Linked DNA regions of Homo sapiens: region 1 is linked to region 2. Evidence: fine-mapped expression QTL. A gene starts in region 2. The other region holds a variant in brackets. All regions are shown on one strand. Distances are from middle to middle.

The links. PIP is the estimated chance that this variant, and not a neighbour inherited with it, causes the effect.
Region 1: its variant is fine-mapped to the expression of FBXL16 in blood mononuclear cells (TOPMed, PIP above 0.99).

The regions. Positions count from the first base shown.
Region 1 is chr16:681,302-686,655 of GRCh38, reverse strand. STUB1 (STIP1 homology and U-box containing protein 1) reads right to left here. Exons shown (of 7, transcript NM_005861.4): 2 at 5,306-5,354; 3 at 5,053-5,218; 4 at 4,776-4,863; 5 at 4,580-4,636; 6 at 4,375-4,491; 7 at 3,855-4,292. The coding sequence ends at 4,167. It overlaps JMJD8 (jumonji domain containing 8), which reads left to right and starts at 2,322. Exons shown (of 9, transcript NM_001005920.4): 1 at 2,322-2,422; 2 at 2,501-2,590; 3 at 2,747-2,795; 4 at 2,875-2,971; 5 at 3,058-3,126; 6 at 3,215-3,334; 7 at 3,422-3,489; 8 at 3,569-3,703; 9 at 3,782-4,986. The coding sequence starts at 2,337. The coding sequence ends at 3,862. It overlaps WDR24 (WD repeat domain 24), which reads left to right. Exons shown (of 9, transcript NM_032259.4): 4 at 470-588; 5 at 666-787; 6 at 873-977; 7 at 1,059-1,399; 8 at 1,480-1,664; 9 at 1,754-2,034. The coding sequence ends at 1,922. RefSeq lists enhancers at 1,893-1,942, 4,292-4,879, 4,880-5,354 and a silencer at 2,343-2,652. The variant G/C (reference allele first, on the strand shown) is at 3,141.
Region 2 is chr16:703,469-708,822 of GRCh38, reverse strand. It overlaps FBXL16 (F-box and leucine rich repeat protein 16), which reads left to right and starts at 3,022. Exons shown (of 6, transcript NM_153350.4): 1 at 3,022-3,311. RefSeq lists enhancers at 1,201-1,816, 1,817-2,433 and a silencer at 1,722-1,938.

The sequences.
Region 1 (5,354 bases), 22 kb after region 2:
GCTCCGCAATGGACTCCAGCCAGTCGCACCAACAGGCCTTGCCTTGGTAGCTGAGGGTGTCAGGATCACACAGGGCCAGGGCTCCAGGGTGGGCCAGACCCAGGACTGTCCTCTGAGGGGCGGGGGTCTCGGGAGTCGTGTGGCTCAAGCTCTCTGTTCTTCCCCCCTTGCTTCTGGAGCTCTCCAGGCACCAGCAGCGGTGGAGCCGTGAGCTGCCGTTCCCATGCCCATCTCTAGCTGCCCCGCAAGTCCCCACTGCCCAATTCTGTTTTCCTCTGTGCTGCTGTAGGGCGGGGACCGGGGTTTTTGTCTTTCCCATGAGCCTCAGCTTTCCTACCTGGGGTGGGCCTGGACATTGGGTACTGAGGGCAGCTGAATGCTGAGGGCTTGTGACTGTCCAGGCAGAGAGGGACCTGCATGGGGTGCTGGGTGTCCAGGACGCCCACAAGTGACCAGTGCCCGCCCCTAGGTGGCGCAAACGTGGACCATGCTGCGGATCATCTACTGCAGCCCTGGCCTAGTGCCCACTGCAAACCTCAACCACAGTGTGGGCAAGGGTGGCTCCTGTGGCCTCCCGCTCATGAACAGGTAGATGCCGGGGGCAGCTCTCCCCAGGGGCTGGGGCTGCTCGAGCCCACCCACCCATGGGCCCTTCCTGCCCCCAGTTTCAACCTGAAGGATATGGCCCCAGGGTTGGGCAGTGAGACGCGGCTGGACCGCAGCAAAGGAGATGCACGGAGCGACACAGTTCTGCTCGACTCCTCGGCCACACTCATCACCAATGAGGGTAGGCTGGGGTGGGTAGGGGTGCTGATGGGAGAGGGGTGGGGGTGTCCCAGACGACCCTGAATGCCCGCCCCATTGTCGGGCAGATAACGAGGAAACCGAGGGCAGCGACGTACCTGCCGACTACCTGCTGGGTGACGTGGAAGGTGAGGAGGACGAGCTGTACCTGCTGGATCCGGAACACGCGCACCGTGAGTGGGGGTCCGGGCAGGGTGGGGTTCAGAGGCGGATGGAGGACAGACTCAGAGCCTCCGCTGGTCCCTGCCTTCCAGCCGAGGACCCTGAGTGCGTGCTGCCGCAGGAGGCCTTTCCGCTGCGCCACGAGATCGTGGACACGCCTCCCGGGCCCGAGCACCTGCAGGACAAGGCCGACTCCCCGCACGTGAGCGGCAGCGAGGCGGATGTGGCCTCCCTGGCCCCCGTGGACTCCTCCTTCTCGCTCCTGTCTGTCTCACACGCGCTCTACGACAGCCGCCTGCCGCCCGACTTCTTCGGCGTGCTGGTGCGCGACATGCTGCACTTCTACGCTGAGCAGGGCGACGTGCAGATGGCTGTGTCTGTGCTCATCGTCCTGGGTGAACGGGTGCGCAAGGACATCGACGAGCAGACCCAGGTGTGTGGTGGGCGGGGCCTCCCCCCTGCAGCGCCGCCCCTGGCACCCAGATCCTGACTGCCGGGCGCTCCCTCCCCCAGGAGCACTGGTACACTTCCTACATCGACCTGCTGCAGCGCTTCCGCCTCTGGAACGTGTCCAACGAGGTGGTCAAGCTGAGCACCAGCCGCGCCGTCAGCTGCCTCAACCAGGCCTCCACCACCCTGCACGTCAACTGCAGCCACTGCAAGCGGCCCATGAGCAGCCGGGGCTGGGTCTGCGACAGGTGGGGCAGTGGGGTCGGGAGGTGGGGCAGGGGCCTGCAGGCAGCGCAGCAGCCCCCGCTGAGGCACCCTCCCTCCCGCCCGCCCCCAGGTGCCACCGCTGCGCCAGCATGTGTGCCGTCTGCCACCACGTAGTCAAGGGTCTCTTCGTGTGGTGCCAGGGCTGCAGCCACGGCGGCCACCTGCAGCACATCATGAAGTGGCTGGAAGGCAGCTCCCACTGTCCCGCAGGCTGCGGCCACCTCTGCGAGTACTCCTGACGGGGCATCTGCTGGGCTTGCCCGGGCGGCCGCGTGCAGAACCCCGCCTGGTCTTGTGCCCGAGACGGGCGGAGGCTGGAACTTGAGACCTCAATAAAGGAAGTAGAGCCGCTGTCGGCACTGCGTGTCACCCCATAGCGCGGCGGGCTCGCCGTAGGCCCGCGGGGCAGCTGGCGGGCGGGGGCTTTCGGCGGGGTTGTCGCCATGGTAACCGGCGGCGCCCATAGTCGCTCTCGGGGCGGCCTTCCCAGTGCCTCCCGTAGAGGCCTCTTCCGGGGCGGGCCAAAGGAGGTCACTTCCGGGGTCCGTCCCGGTTCCCGGCCGTTGCCACGACGACGAAGCTGCCGGCCAATGGCTGGCGGATGGGCCCAAGGTTCCCGGCGTGCAGCGCGGCTGCCTGAGGGCGGCAGGCTCATGGCGCCGGCGTCGCGGTTGCTCGCGCTCTGGGCGCTGGCGGCTGTGGCTCTACCCGGCTCCGGGGCGGAGGGCGACGGCGGGTGGTGAGCGGCCCGGGAGGGGCCGGGCGGTGGGGTCACGTGCGGCGGGCGGGGCGCGGGCTGACCCAGCTGTGCCCGCAGGCGCCCGGGCGGGCCGGGGGCCGTGGCGGAGGAGGAGCGCTGCACGGTGGAGCGTCGGGCCGACCTCACCTACGCGGAGTTCGTGCAGCAGTACGTGCGCCCCTGATCGCGGAGGTCGCGTCCTGTTCACCGGCCCGTCTGCCCCGACCGCCCAAGGCCGCCTTCCCCTGACCTCGCGCGCACGCGTGGGGCTGGGGCGGCGAGGCTGGCGGTCCGGCCTGGCCGCGACTCTGCCCTTCTTTCCAGGTACGCCTTCGTCAGGCCCGTCATCCTGCAGGGACTCACGGACAACTCGGTGAGCGCGTGCCCGTCCGTCCCCGGCCACTCTCGCCCGTGCTGGGCCCGGCCACTAAGTCCCCTCCCCGCCCCCGCAGAGGTTCCGGGCCCTGTGCTCCCGCGACAGGTTGCTGGCTTCGTTTGGGGACAGAGTGGTCCGGCTGAGCACCGCCAACACCTACTCCTACCACAAAGGTACGCGGCCTCACCCCTGGGGCCCGCCCATTTGCCAACACCGGGGCGGCTGGACCAGACGGTCCTGACCCGTCTCTTTCCTGCAGTGGACTTGCCCTTCCAGGAGTATGTGGAGCAGCTGCTGCACCCCCAGGACCCCACCTCCCTGGGCAATGGTGAGGCAGCCCTA[G/C]GCGGCGGTAGGGGGTGGGGACGCTTGGAGTCTCCAGGTGCCAGGATCCCTGTCCCCGCCGTCTCTGTTGGCAGACACCCTGTACTTCTTCGGGGACAACAACTTCACCGAGTGGGCCTCTCTCTTTCGGCACTACTCCCCACCCCCATTTGGCCTGCTGGGAACCGCTCCAGCTTACAGCTTTGGAATCGCAGGTGGGTGCTTCTTGGGACTGGGAAGGACTGAGGCTTCTGTCGGTGAGTACAAAATGGGTTGGTCACCAGGTGCTCATAACCCCACAGGAGCTGGCTCGGGGGTGCCCTTCCACTGGCATGGACCCGGGTACTCAGAAGTGATCTACGGTCGTAAGGTCAGCACGGGGTGGGGGTTGAGGCTTGGGACTCGCTGACCAAAACGGGCAAGGGTGACACTGCTGCTCATGCCCCCAGCGCTGGTTCCTTTACCCACCTGAGAAGACGCCAGAGTTCCACCCCAACAAGACCACGCTGGCCTGGCTCCGGGACACATACCCAGCCCTGCCACCGTCTGCACGGCCCCTGGAGTGTACCATCCGGGCTGGTGAGGTCAGTGGCTGGCAGGAGAGGGCCAGGCCAGGCTAGAGGCCCGCAGCTAATCTCTGCTGCACCCCCTTCCTCCACCAGGTGCTGTACTTCCCCGACCGCTGGTGGCATGCTACGCTCAACCTTGACACCAGCGTCTTCATCTCCACCTTCCTCGGCTAGCCAAAACAGCTGGCAGGACTGCCGGTCACACACCAGCACGTCCCACCTCGTGCTCACGGATTTTATTACACAGATAGTGGCGGCAATGGCCTCAGCCCAGCCCACCCTCACCTGCTTTTCCAGCCCACAAAGGGGGACGATCACGGCCCAGCAAAAGCGATGCTGAGAGGGGAAACAGTCCAGAGTCCAACAGCAGAACTTGGGGGAAGCGGTCGGGGTGGCCAGGAACATAAACTATGTATAGGGGCCGGGGGCTTCTGCCCAGGGCTCCCCTGGACCAGGACGCCAGGTAGGGCAGGGAACCTCAGTAGTCCTCCACCCAGCCATTCTCAGAGATGAATGCGTCAATAACCTCCTTCATAGCCAAGTTGGGGATGAGCTGTTCCTGGGTCAGGGGGCTCCGGGTCACGGGGTCAAAATGACCCACACGCTGCAGTGACAAGAAGGGCAGAGGGCAGTCATGGGGCCCAGGACCATGCCACTGGCCCTGCTCCCCCAGCCGCAGGCCTCACCTGCAGGTGCTCCTCGATGTCCTTGCGGTCGTAGGTGATGCCACTGGGCGTGATGCACGGCTCCCGCATCAGCTCAAAGCTGATCTTGCCACACAGGTAGTCGGGGATGTCTCGCTTCTGTGGCACAGGGGCACACGGTCAGAGGCTGAAAAGGGGCACTGCACGAGCACCTGCCAGCCATCGGCAGCAAGCGACACACACTCACCTTCCTCTTCTCATCCACCTGAGAAAAAAGCTCGTCCATGTCCGCCATGTACTTGTCCTGTGAAGAGTTGAGTGCTGTGCTTGGGGGAGACACCCCACCTCCCTCCTCCATGGGGCACAGACCCAACACAAGGCGGGGATGCTCCCACGCCACGTGCACACACACAGACCCACATGTGGGTGGGGGGCACCCTCACGTGCTTGGCCTCAATGCAGGCCTGCTGGGCCCGGACGTGGCTGTCGTCCTCATCACCCTCGTGGTTTCGCTGGCACTCTTCCAGCTCCCTGGGGGTTGACCAGGAGCCGGTCAGAGATGGACCTGGCCAGATGTCTGACCACACCCCAATCTCAGAGCTAACATCCACACTTCCCCACATTTCCTGCTTGCCAGTAAAGCCTTCGATAAACGCTTGTGTCGGGAGTCGGTGATTCAGAATTATCCCAAGACAGGGCGGCCTGGGGTGAGGGTCCCACCTCTCACGCTCCGCGGCAATGAGCCTGGAGAGGTAGGAGTGCAGCTCGCTCTCCTGGTGGATGCGCCGCTCCTCAATGCTGTTCCAGCGCTTCTTCTTCGCGATTCGAAGAGCGCTGGGGATGTCGTCCCCGAAGTTCAGCCGCTGCTCCTTGGCCAGGCTGTAAGCTGGGGAACGGGGGCTTCACGTCACTCTCTGGCCAGTCCACCCGCCTGGCCCCAGAGGCCCCACAACCGGGCAGCTTGTCAGCCAACCTCGCTGCAGATTGGCGATGGCCTCATCATAGCTCTCCATCTCCAGCTG
Region 2 (5,354 bases):
TGCGGGCCTGAGCGGTATCCACATCCCCCAGAGGAGATCGAAGTCTGCTGAGCAGCCCCCTTTGTCCAAGCCACTTCCCTCTGGGGTGTGAGCTGTTCTCCAAAGGTATCCTCTACAAGGGCCTCCCGCCACAGGAGGCGATCCAAACTGCTGGTGCCAGTCACCTTTCATGCTGCTGACGCATCGCTGTCTCCCTCATTCGCCAAATTTGCCATGCACCTGTGACGTACTGAGATGGAGGCTCAGTGCCCAGGGACAGGGTGGTGGGGAAGAAGACCGCACCCTGGCCCTCAGCAGGCACAGTCAGCCAATAGCTCATCAAATGCACCATCAGACACCAGGCAGACACAGGCTGAGAAAAGAAGGTCCTTGGTGCTGGGGAGGTGAGGACACGGGTCTGTGGCCCTGTCCTCCTGAGGGAGGGCACCTAGGGGAGAATACATTAGCCAAGGTCTGAAAGGCAAGTAGTCACCCAGGTACAGGTGGCAAGGGAGTGCTCCAGGCAAGGGGCCAGGAGAGGAGTGCTCCAGGCGAGAGGTGCTCTAAGGGAGGGGTGCTCCACATGAGGAAATGCTCCAGGAAGGGGTGCTCCAGGGGAGGGGTGCTGCAGGGGAGCTCCAGGTGAAGGGAGGGGTGCTCCAGGTGAGGGGTGCCCCAGGTGAAGGGTGCTCCAGGTGAAGGGAGGGGCACACCAGGTTAGGGATGGGGCACTCTCCTGGCCCCAGAAGAAGGCCAGTGTGGCTGAAGCTTCATCCTCAAGGGGCCAGGTATAGAGCGAGGCTGTGGGCCAGCCGTGCCAGGCACTCAGGGCTGTGCAGTCTTCAGCAAAGAATGAACAGGGCCCTGGGAAGAACAGGACCATGTCTGCACGGCAAAATGGCCCCGCTGCACCCTGGGGAGAAAAGGAGATGGGAGAGGGGTGGAGAGACCAATGGGGAAGTAGCTGCCACCAGCCATGGTGGAGACAGACAAAGTTGCCCGGCACAGGTGGGGTCACAGAGGTGGAGGGTAGGTGGGTCACAGCTGGTGACAGAGGTGGAGGGTAGGTGGGTCACAGCTGGTGACAGAGGTGGAGGGTAGGTGGGTCACAGCTGGTGACAGAGGTGGAGGGTAGGTGGGTCACAGCTGGTGACAGAGGTGGAGGGTAGGTGGGTCACAGCTGGTGACAGAGGTGGAGGGTAGGTGGGTCACAGCTGGTGACAGAGGTGGGGGGTAGGTGGGTCACAGCTGGTCACAGAGGTGGAGGGCAGGTGGGTCACCGCTTTGGAGGAGCACGGTTGGCCTTTCTGTGATGATCTTCCACACACTCTTCCCTGCTCAGATTCCCCACAGGCAGGGCTAGCTTCTTGGGCCTCGCCAGGGTTGCATGACCCAAATGCCTGACTCCCACGCTCACCCTATGCACTTGGGGTGTGTCCAGCCCACCCTATGCACTTGGGGTGTGTCCAGCCTGCCCTGTGCGCTTGGGGTGTGTCCGGCTCCAGCCCCAGCTGGGACTCAACACAAGCACAGCTTGTTCTCTGCCTGAGGCCCTGGCACCTGCTGTGGTGAGAGCCCCAGGCACGAGGTGAAACCCTCCTACCGGGAGCAGTCCACGCCTGGGGTGGAAGCTGCTGCCAGAGGGCCAGCCTGCCAGACCATGCACCGGAGACACCCAGATAGGTTGGACCGCCGCTCCCCTGTTGCCCCAACTGTCTTCACGGGGCTCGTCCTGTCTGCCCCACTCCGGGCACCTTCTTTGGTCAGTATCCAGGTACCGGGCAAGACTTACGCAGAAGAGCTGCTGCGCTCACCCCAGGTAGACCCAGTGGCGCCCCCACAGCAAGCACAGAACCACCCCACCCCGGGACCCAGCCAGGGTGCCGTCAGTCTGACCCTCCTTCCCGCTGACCCCAGGCCTCACACCGGCCCCTTCGGCCAGGCTTCCCATCAGGACGCTGGGAACAGCAGCTGGTTTCACTCCTATTGAGATACTCTCAGGAGCCCCATTCAGCCCTGTAGCTCTTTCCCGGTGCAAAGAACCCCTCTGCTCTCCCCACACCTGCTCCCTCCCCCGGCCCTGCTCCCAGGAGACCCCAGGATAGGGCGCCATTGGCCTCCATTCTCCTGCCCTGAGCCTGCTGGGGCGTCTGGGGTCTCCAGCGGTCCCCACCGAGTCCTCCACCTAACCTAGCACGCCCCACCCCTGCCCCGGGCTGCAGCAGCCGCCGCCGCCTCCAGCCTCCAGTTTATTCCCGAGGGAACTTGCCAGGCTCCTCGGATCTTTGCACCCCCATTCCCGAGCCATCCCTCCCTCGCGCCGTGGGGGGGTCTCAGCTCCAGTGGGGCACCCTCAGGAAGCCCCCGCCAGAAGTCACCACCGCAAGCCCTCGGGTGCTTTCACTGTCACTGTCTGAACTGATCCGTGCAGTCACTTGTTTTCGCGCTCTGCGGGTGTGCCAGGGTCTCCAATGAGGGGCTTCCGGCCGGGCACGCAGCAGGTGCGCGGGGGGTGTGAGGGCTGTGAAGGGTCCTTGCCGTGGGCTGGGCGGGAGGGTCCAGAGACGGGGGTCTGACCACCCTGTCTCCTCTGGGCCGGGTCTCGCCTTCCTCGCCTCCCCAAGTGGTGGCCAAGGGCCGGGACGCGCGGTGCCGCCCCGGTCCCCATAGGACCCCGGACCCCTGGGCCACCCGCCGGCGCCTGCTCTCCCGCCTCCCCTCGCCCTCCCTTCTGCCTCCCGCGCCCTCCCCGCCCGCCGCGCGCCGGGGTTTGTTATTGTGCGGGTGCCCGCGGCGAGCGGGGCGGGGGCGCGTGCCGGGCCTGGCGCGTGCTCGTGGACGCCGTGCCGGGAGCGCGCCGCGCGCGGGGGCCGGGGCGGGGCGGGGGCGGGGCTCGGCATTCTCGGCGCCCCCGCCCGGGCTCGCGAACCCGGATTGGCTCGCCACGCCGGGAGCGCGCGAGGGCGCGGCGTTTGGTGCCGGGCGGGGGGCGCGCGCGGCGCCGGCGGCGGCCACGGAGGAGCGCGGGGAGGGCGAGGGGAGGAGGAGGCGCCCGCCTGGTTCCCTGCAAAGCGGCCTTATTTATCTGGGCACAGCCTCAGCCTCCCCGGTGGGAGGCTTGGGGCGGCCGATCCTCTCCCACCGGGGAGCTCCTTTCCGTGCGCTGCCGAGGGGGCCCGGCCAGGACGGGACGCGGGGCGCAGGGCGCGGCCGGGCCCTGCCGGCCAGTCCAGCACCCCGGCGGCCCCCGCGCGCCGACGCCCATGCCGGGCTCCCCATGACGGGAGGTCGCCCGGCGGACAGCGTGGCATGAGCCAGGAGCCCGGGCCGAGGTAAGGTGCGCGTGCGGCCGGGCTGCGGGGCCGGGAGGGGGCCAGGCCGCACCTCCGCGGCGGCCACAATGAGGAGGGGGCGGGGTGGGGGTGGGGGCCGCGCCGCCGCCGCCCGGGAAGGGCTTACGTAACGGCAGCCCCTTCCCCACCTCCCCCGCGGCCGCTGGGCCTCGGTCCCTGCCTGGCCTTCCCGCAGCCCCGCGCCCCGGCCCCTGGCCCGGAAGAGGGCCGCTCCCCACTGGCCACTCGGCCGGGGCTGGGGGTCCGTGCCTCCTGGGACGCCGAAAGGAGGAATTGTAGGCCCCCGGCCTCCACCCCGGGCGCCTGGTCGGCTCAGAGGGCGCCCCCGGACCGAAGTGACAGGCCAGAGACCGTTAAACTGCATGGGGGTCGCGTGGATGTGCGGCCTGAGGGGCGGCCCTCCCCGGGCGGGCGGCTTCTGGACCCGGGGCCTGCGCTGAGCTACTGCCCGCGGGAGGAGGAGGGTGGGGGGAGGCTGGCACCTTCCTGGTTCTGGAGGCGGGACCGGGCCTTGGCCAAGGTTGGAGGGCCTCAGAAGGGAAACGGCACCTTCAGACCTGCTCGGGAGGGGTCCGGTGTCCTCCTGGGGATTAGGTGGGTGGAGAGCGTTCCCCACCCATCACCTCAGGAGAGAGGGCTGCGGTGGCAGCTTCAGGAACTGACGGCCCAGCGGCCACTCCAGGCCCTTCCCAGGCTCCAGGCTCTGTTCGGGCAGCCTGCCCTCCGCAGGAGGAGCAGATGGCGGAGGCCACCTCACCTGCCTCTTCCTTCAGGCCCTTCCCCCACACCCGTGCATCCGAGGGCCCAATGGCCAGGGGCAGCTCAGGCCTCCCTGGACACAGGGCCGTCTCCCAGCCCACCCCCTCTGTGGGGTGCTGGACAGCAGCCTTGGAGCAGATAGGCCTGGGTCAGGCCAGGAGACTGAAGGGTTTTCTGTCTCCCGGACCAGGGCAGAGGCCTAGTGGAACCTGGCTGGTCTGGCCAGAGGTGGACACAGGGCTGGACCTGGAGCCGCCTGGAGGGGAGGGAAATTCAAGGCCCAGCTGCAAACATCGCTGTGTGGGGGAACCCTAGGACTCACTTGCCCCACTCCCTGCCCCCTGCCACCCCAACTGCCCCTCATCTGGGGCCAGACCCTTGAGTTCAGCCCCTCCATCGACAGACTCACTGCCTCCAGCTCACACCCACTTCCGGGGCGGCTGGACGAGTCCTACCTCCCACTGATGAGAAGGACACAAACAGCTTCCTGTGTGGGAGGCACGGGGCCCTTGAACCAGCTGGACATGGACCCAGGAAGCCTTGTGTTGCTGAGAGTTAGGGATCTCCCACCCAGGTGGCACTGTTCAGCCACCCGAAGACCCCATCTCCTTGCATGTGGGCACCCACTGCTGTGCCTCCCATGACTGGATTGGCAGTGAAGGGAGCTCTGTGGGTGAGCAGGTGACTGAGCCTTCCCCACCAGTGGTGCAGGAGGAGTCAACGGCCAAACTGGCTGCAATGTGTGGGTTCAGGCCTCATTCCTTCACTGGGCAGGAAAGAGGGGTGATGGTTAGTGGCAGCTGCCTGGAGCAGTAGGCACTAGGGGCCCAGGCCTCGCCTCTGAGGGTGCTCATGCTCTTCCGAGCAGGGGCTGAGATGAGGCCTGGATCCCAGCACCCACTCCCCAGGGTGTCCAGCTTTCAAGGCTGAGCTGCCCTGGGCTTGACCATGGGCCCTCAGTCTGCTGGGGCAGCAACACGGGTTTCTCTTGAGGCCACGTGCCTGCTGCGCCATGGTGCCCCTCCTCAGAGCCCCTGGTGCACCCCCAGAAGCATCTCAAACTGGGGGCGGGAGAGGAGCTCTGCCGCTGTGCCACGTGCCAAGTGGCAGGGACGCGGGTGTGCCTGCGTCACGGGGCTGCCACGGAATGTGTCAGTCTGCACCCTGTCCCCAATCCCCAGCCACCCCAGCTGTCAGCCAGGCTCTGGGGCTGCCACTGCAGATGGAGCCCGATGTGCATTTCTCTGGCCACCAGGGCCCTGC